2 linked regions of the Homo sapiens genome follow. The protein of the gene in region 2 purifies or fractionates together with the protein of the main gene of each other region. This does not show direct contact. Each region holds a gene or a part of one and is shown on either strand. Other genes may lie near its edges.

The links. Proteins that work in one complex are often made in the same cells at the same time.
Region 1: the proteins of ANXA8L1 (region 2) and RMP24 purify together in Homo sapiens (co-immunoprecipitation; one large-scale study listed by IntAct). This does not show direct contact.

The regions. Positions count from the first base shown.
Region 1 is NC_000018.10:35,975,679-35,979,778, reverse strand, and holds the end of RMP24 (UPF0711 protein C18orf21), read right to left. Parts: intron 2,370-4,100; coding exon 2,179-2,369; intron 945-2,178; coding exon 773-944; 3' UTR 501-772; downstream 1-500.
Region 2 is NC_000010.11:46,374,339-46,378,575, reverse strand, and holds the start of ANXA8L1 (annexin A8-like protein 1), read right to left. Parts: upstream 2,801-4,237; 5' UTR 2,725-2,800; coding exon 2,704-2,724; intron 1-2,703.

The DNA.
Region 1 (4,100 bases), on a different chromosome or scaffold from region 2:
ATCTTGGTTATTGTGAATAATCCTACAATGAAACACTGTAGGGCAGACATCTCTTTGACATACTGATTTCAATTCCTTTGGATATATATGCAGATATGGGATCATATGGTAATTCTACCTTTAGTTTTTTGAGGAACCTCCATACTGTTTTCCAAAGTTGCTGTACTAATTTATAGTATCACCAACAGTATGTTTCCTTTTCTAAGAAAGAAAATTTTAGTTTCCTATTGAGTGATCTATAATCAGGAATGTTCCAGATATTTACTTTTGCAATCAAAATAGGAATAAGGTTCAGGTTTTACTAAGATAGTTATGCAGATAATTGTGAGAAAATAAGGACCCACTTGATCCTATTCCTGAATTATCAACAATGCTATAGACACATGGAAGAAACCCTTGAGTGAATAGACCCTCTCATAAAGATCTCAATTTCCTTTTGAAAGACAATAACATAAATAAAAACTGCTGACTAAAGGAAGAAAAAACAGTAATGCCACTACTCAATGTATATATCTATCTTTATATACATACACATATATATCTATAGATATGTATCTACAAGGAACTTTCATATATTTTTTGATCCTCACAGCTGTCCTATGAGGTAGGCAGGTTTCAGGTATTCACACTAATGAGGTATTTTCCCCATAAACACTGAAGGATGCCAAGAAAAGTTTGCATTCAGATCTAGTTTCCATGTATTCAAAAAATGAATAAGAGTTTAAAAAGTTGTTTTACCAACTTTAGTTTCAGAATTGACATCAGGCATTTCTTATTTTAAAAGTCCACCCTTCAGAGAAGATAAGAAATTTCTGAAGTCCACCTTTGGAATCTTTTGGGATTCATTCTGACTAAGTAACATTTTTAGTTGAGAGAAGTGTTTCTTTGTTTTGCTGGTGTTCTTTGAGGAGCAAGTAGATACTGACTGTCCAGATGTAGGTGTTCTGAAAAGAAACAAAACCACACTTAGTTATACCAACAAATGACAATCATTTTCTACTCTTTTGTATTATGGCCATATACATGCACTGGCTATCCTCGGTGTATTATCATTTGACAAATCCCTGTTCAGTTAGATTTCCTCAGGAATTTCTGACAGAGAAAAGGGCAAGAACAAATGTTTAGGGCAAGAAAGTGTATTATGAATGGTTCAGTATTTTTTTTTTTGGAGACGGAGTCTCGCTCTGTCGCCCAGGCTGGAGTGCAGTGGCGCCATCTCAGCTCACTGCAACCTCTGCCTCCCAGGTTCAAGCAGTTCTCCCGCCTCAGCCTCCCAAATAGCTGGGACTACAGGCGCACGCCGCTACGCCTGGCTAATCTTTTGTATTTTAGTAGAGATGGGATTTCACCGTGTTGCACAGGCTGGTCTTGAACTCCTGAGCCGCCCACCTCAGCCTCCCAAAGTGCTGGGATTACAGGTGTGAGCCACCATGCCCGGCCGTGAATGGTTCAGTTTTGTTGGCACATAGGATGATTTAAGGCAAAGAAAGACAGGCAGACAGACTGGTGCCAGATAGGGCTGGAAAGCCATGCTAGAGCATTTATCCATATGCTACACAGTGATGCTTCTAATCAGAGCTATGCTCCAGAAAGATGATCACACTAAAAGAGTTTGATCCTAGAAGCAGGGAGACCCATGAGGAAAATCACTGCAGTAGTCCTGACAAATGGTGCATAAGGACCTGAACCAGAATATAGCAGCACTATGGAGAAAAAGGAGCAAAAAGATGAAAACAGGGAAGTAGGATATATAGAAATCGGTGACAAGGACCAAGGGAATAGGGATTTTTGAATGTACCTGTCATTTTAGGTCAAAATGTCCAGAAAGGTGTGTTCATTCACAGAATAAGGAACTCAGGAGGATGGACAGGTTTGAGTGGTTAGCTGTGGGGCAATGATGAACTAAGTTTTGAACATGTAGGGGACTGAAGTGGTTATATTTAGCAGGCAGCTGGAAATAGGCACAGGAGATGTTGGAAGTAGAGTAACATACCTAGAAGTCAAATGCATTGAAATGAGCATTGAAGATATGGGAGTATGTGACATTAGAAAAGGGTATGGAGGAAAAATGGCCAAGTCCTGAAATGCATGGCATATTTAGGGAGTATATATTAAACACAGGAAATTAGAAGAAAACACTTAACACTGGCAATTCAAAAACTTCATGGATTAAGATACCTGAAAACCGATGCTGGGCTCTTGCCTTTCGAGCCAGACATGTCATGATTTGGGTTTGCAGTCCTTCTCTCTGGTGTCTTCAGGCTGAGTTTACTTGTAGGAGTGGCAGGATTGCTCTTCAATGTTGACACAAAGCTTCTACTTTTACCATGATGTTTCACTGTTCTGTTGCATGTTTTACAAGTGATCAACTACCATAAAAATAAGAAATATCAGTCCCGTCATTTATCTTATAATTTAACCCCATAAACCACAGGTTCATTGAATTCTTAAATGTCAGGGACTACACCAGATACTATAGGGGTAAGTAAAATAGAGGCTGTCCTTGGGGAACTTGCAATCTAGTAGCGAGAATCAGACAAGACATTTTTTTTTTTTTGAGACGGAGTCTTGCTCTGTCCCCAGGCTGGAGTGCAGTGGCGTGATCTCAGCTCACTGCAACCTCTGCCTCCTGGGTTCAAGTGATCCTCCTGCCTCAGCCTCCCATGTAGCTGAGACCAGGCGCCTTCCACTGTGCCTGGCTAATTCTGTATTTTTAGTAGGCAGGGTTTCGCCATGTTGGCCAGCCTGGTCTTGAACTCCTGACCTCAGGCGATCCACCCGCCTCGGCCTCCCAAAATGCTGGGATTACAGGCTTGAGTCACTGTGCCCAGCCGACAAATTTTAAATGAGAAAATGTTCAATAAAAATGAATGGCTAAACATTTGTATTTAATTTAAAATAGGTTTTCAAAGATAATGAACTCTACTTTTTAAATATAAAACCATGTTTGGTGGGAATTTGGGAAGAGATGGGAGATAATACTCTTTAACATCTGGAGGAATGTTCTTTGTAACAGCAGTAAGCATTTAATATTTTTTTGCAGATGAACTTCAAGCCTCTTCCCAAAAACAACATGGCACAGTATCACTGGAAATTTAAGTAGCCCCTTCAAATCCTTAGCAATTTTGTAAACATAGGTCTAAAGTAACTTATACAACCAAATGAGTTGTTATACTCTCACACCTCTCCACTCCCATCATTAGCTCTAGAGGTTGTCTTTCTTTTCAAGATTCATTTCTCAAGAAATGGTCCATTTTCTAGCTAATTTCCTTTCTTCTACATATCTAATTGACTGTGCACAGGACTCAGCCCATGCCTCGGCAAATTAATACAAACTAGTTTAAGTGAGAAGTAGTTTGATGTTCATGAGCAGATGAAAATGCCAATGGAAGATCTGCATCTATCAAAGGTCTATGTTGCTTTACACTTTTTGGAAGGAGGCTGTATACAGGTTAAAATAAATCAGCCGGGCGTGGTGGTGGGCACCTGTAGTCCCAGCTACTCAGGAGGCTGAGGCAGGAGAATGGCGTGAACCCAGGAGGTGGGGCTTGCAGTGAACCGAGATCACGCCACTACACTCCAGCCTGGGCGACAGAGGGAGACTCCGTCTCAAAAAAAAAAAAAAAAAAAAAAAAAAAAATCAGAAAAACAAATACCTCTAGCACCTTTCTAGCTGACTTCTGATTAAAATACATTAGAATGTAAGCTTCATGAGGGCAAAACACTGCAAGATAGTGAGGCAGCATTTGCTGTCTTCCCATTTAAGAACATTTTCCAAATATGTGGCAGTAATGATTTTTGAAAAATACAATTCTCCAAGAACTAAGAAACCGAATTCCATACTCACTTCAATATTCTATCTCTTCTTTCTTTCCCTTTAACCATTCAATTTTATGACAAAGCAAAATGCACCTACCTGACCAACACTGGTAAACTCCTAAATATGACAATTTTCAATCCAAGTAATTGCTAATTATAGTCTTAGGCCAGACATAAGCTGTCATAATGTCCAGTGCCCGGCACAGTGATAGACAATAAGCAGGCACTTGAACAGTTGATAAATGTTAACATAAAATATGCAGGGATATAAAGTGTATTTG
Region 2 (4,237 bases):
GCACTTCAAGCCCCTTGTGTGTGCCAGACCTGGGCCAGGTGCTTTAGAAGCAATGCTTATGTCATGGCTTCCTCAACAGTTGTGCTAGGTAAGTACTGATGCCTCACTTTACAGAAAGGGAGCTGGACTCCCTTACACAGCTAGTAAGTGATGCTGTTGGGACTCCCCAGCCTGACTCAGAAGCTGAGCTCTATCTACCTCCCCTGCCCTACTGATGACTCCACCTTTCCCAGACAATGAGTGTTCCTGGAACGTTCCACTGAAGGAAGCTTCACCCACAGGAACGCAGGTCGTCTGGGAATGTGGGAGGCATCTCAGCTCTCAGTGCCTGCCGGCTTCCCTCTGCCCCAGCACTCGGGGGCTGTGGTGCACCAGCGAGTGGCCAGGCTGTGTAACCACATCCCTGAGGAGCATGCAGTCCCGCAGGGGTGCGGTAGGTCTCAGGTGCAGCATTTGTAAGCAGCTCCCTGGCTGGTTCTGATTTTGCTGCATTGAGAAGCCTCTGTCTCACTTCCCACTCTAAGGTTTTAGAAAATAAGTGTTCTGGGAATCGGAGCCCTGGCTATCAGTGTGGAGTCCTGGAGCTCCAGACCTCCTGCTGAGAAGGAAGGGTCAGCCTCAGGCTCCTGCAGGGTCTTGCCCAGGGCCGTGCTAGTCCAGACAGGCACATTTTCACTGAAAAGGTGACTCAGACCAGCCTGTGACTACATCTATTAATATAACTTGTTCTGTGACAGGCACAGGGGAGCTGCCATGCCTTGGCCTTCCCCTGCTACGTGGCTGCCCAGAGGCCTGGGAGATGGGTTTGTCTCTATGAGAGACACAGAGGAAAAGGCAACACCAAAAAGAGAGGTGCAGATGGGCCCTGCCTGCAGACAGATCTCTCTCCAGTGGCTCCCTCATCTCCTCCCATCCCGTTCCTGGCCCAGCTTTGTGCCTAGAGGACACTGGGTCTTCGCTAGCAGCTCAGCTGTTGCAGGTGGGGTCTACCTGTGAACTTGCTACCCCGAGCCAGCTCTCACATGGGGTATGGACGACCAGGGTATGGTTTTGGCCCTGGAGTCAGGCTGTTCAGATTCTCACCTAGACTCTCACACTTACTAGTGAGTTCGGGCACCTGCCTAGCCTACTTGTGCCTCAGTTTCCTCATCTGTGGATAAGGATACTGGTGTCTACTTCATAGACTCCTTGTGAGGTTCAAGGGAGATATTGAATGTGAGGTGCTTAGAGAAGGGTCCGGCCACAGAGTAGGGACTCAGTGAGTGTCACAGTGATCCTGTCAATTTGGCAGGTCCCTACATGGACAGCCCTTTGTCCTGCTGCACTGGGTGCAAGGCCCAGTGCCAGACTGCCTTGGCCAGCAACTGACTTTGGAAACCACCCAGCACTGGGCTCTCCCTGCCATGTCCACCTCCTCAAAGGCAGGTTCCCAGCAGTCTGGTTGAAGCTGCAGGCCTCCATGGCCCCTTGTCCTGGAAGAAGGCTGCTTCCCTGGGGGCCAGGACAGCTGCCCCACCTCAGCCTGGCTTCCTCTTTGTCCCACCTGTCCAGAACCTAGCATGTCTGACCCTGAGGACACTTGCTTGGGTTGCGACATCTATGATCCAGAGACTCCCTGAAGCTGTACAAGCCTGGGTATCCCACAAAAGCTCACAGAGAACCTGGGGCTGGGCAGAGAGACCCAACTGCTCTCTGACTGGAGCCTGCTGGCCATTGGACCCTAGCAAGTCACTCAGTGTCTCTGAGCCTTCATTTCATCATCTGCAAAACAGAAAGTGCAGCCCTGACATCCTGAGGCTGCCTGGGAGGAAAGGAAAAGGGTGTGCAGAGCCGGGAGCCGGGAGATGTCACCTCTGTCCCCTTCTGGATATTCAACTCCTTAGCACAGCGATGGCCTCAGGCTCAACCATAGACAGAAAGCTCCCGAGAACCCATCAGTTCTGCTGGGCATGGGCTGCCCTGAGCCCCGGGTTCCTCCAGGCTCTAGCAGGCTAGGTCCTCCTGCTTCCCCTCTTCCCTCTCCAGTCTTGACAAATGAACATCATTGATCCCTGAGGTGAAGGCATTGATGGGTCCCCAACAGCAGGTTCAGGTTACTCTCATGCTCAAAGCCCTTCAGTGCCTTCCCACTTCTCTTAAGGTAAAGCCTAACTCCTCAGCCTGCCAGGCAAGGCCTTTCAGGACCTGGCCCTGCCTGCTTCCCCAGGTCCATCTCCTCCGGTACCAGGACCCTTGAGCTGTGCTGAGCAGCTTCCCTCAAAGCCAAGCTCCCCGCCCTCTGACCCTCTGCACACAGTTCCCTCTGCCAGGAGCAGTATGCCTGATTCTCCCCAAATGCACACGTGTGTGCACCCCATACACATTTACACACAAGGCTCAACCATGATACCCCCTCCTTTGAGTGGCCCCACCCCTGCAAGGGTCCCTCCCCTGGACTCTTCTCAAACCTCAGCTTCCCCCTTGCATTTCTAGATTTCTTCATCAGCCTGTCTCCCGGCCCAGGTCCCATCCCTGCCGTGGGCACTCTAGGCCTGGGACTGTTTCTTCTCGGCCCCTTCCCACCCTCCATGCTTGGCCCAGGAGGCAGCCAAATGTAGACTGAGCCACTCCCAGCCAAGGGCGACTTTACATTTCTCAGGACTCCCTGGTGACCAGCACCCAACACCATGCAGGAACGCAAATCTCCTGCCAGCTCCCACTTACCCAGGCTTTCCACCAGGCCATCTCTTTCACTTCGGGGGCACCTTTCTCACGGAGATGAAGAGACACAGGTTGGCCTCTGCTGGGACTCCACACGTCTGGCTCCTGCAGCTGAGGAGTGAGCAGGCCGCTCACTTGGGTGTGGGGGTGCAAGCCCTCCCAGGGCAGCGCTACACCTGCCTGCCGCCCCCTCGCCCCCGGGCTCTGCCTGGCTTTGGGCGTCTCCTGTGGCTCCCAGGCCCCACCCAGACACTGCCCAGGCCTGCTCTGGGGAATTACACAACTCACTGGCAGATATTTGGGCTGTGGCTGTTACGCATACTGGAAATTCTTAGCTCCAGCCTGCGAAAGCCCCACTCAGTAAACACAGCTCCATGTTGATTAGGCTGGTCTCAAACTCCCGACCTCAGGTGATCTGCCCACCTTGGCCTACCAAAGTGCTGGGATTACAGGTGTGAGCCACCGCACCCAGCCCATTTTCATCATTCCTAATAGCCATGGAGTATGCCATTTAATCAACTGTATATGCAATATTATTTTTTTTTCCGGGGGCAAGGGGCTCATATTCATCACAGATGGGAGGCCAGTTGGTGAGAAGGTGGCAGGCGGCACAGCCACCTTATACAGCATGCCATACTGGTCCACTGTCAGACCGGTGATGGCCTCAGCTCCATCACCCCCCAGGCTGACTCTGGCTCCTGCCTGGCTCTGCCCAGCCACCACAGCCCCTCGGGACCATTCAGAGGCATCACTGGAGGATGTGTGGTTAGTGGAGCAGCTGGTCATGGGGAGGTCTCGTTTCTTTGGTGGAAGGCATTCCACCTTCTCTCATGAGAAGAAAGAGAGAGGGCCAGGCATCTTGCCCACTACTACCCACTATCAACACTTAGGCCTGACATCAGTCTCTAAATAAATATTCTGGGCCAGGTGCAGTGGCTCACGCCTGTAATCCCAGCACTTTGGGAGGCCAAGGCAGGTGGATCATGAGGTCAGGAGATCGAGACCATCTTGGCTAACATGGTGAAACCCCATCTCTACTAAAAATACAAAAAATTAGCCAGGAGTGGTGGCGGGCACCTGTAGTCCCAGCTACTGGGGAGGTTGAGGCAGGAGAATTGTTTGAACCCAGGAGGCAGAGGTTACAGTGAGCCAAGAACATGCCACTGCACTCCTGCCTGGGCAACAGAGTGAAACTCCGTCTTTAAAAAAAAAAAATCAACAGCAGCTTCTAGGATGATGAGCAGTGACTCAGTCTCTCCTTGACCAGATTCTGTAACTGTCCAGCAGAAATGCTTATCTGATCTCTGCGAGAACAGGAAGCAGCTCAGTGGGGGCCTTCCTTGCTAAATTCTTCATCAAGCTGGTCTGTTATCTGCCCTGAGTCCTGCAAGAACATCTCAAGAAAAATCCCAAAAACATGCAAGACAAATGAGGGTCCTCCCTTAGCATGTCTTGAAGCACTGAGGCACCTGAAAGCTGTATATAGTTTCTGGGGAAACAGTTTTTTAGGAAATGTAGCACAGACACTAACTATTCT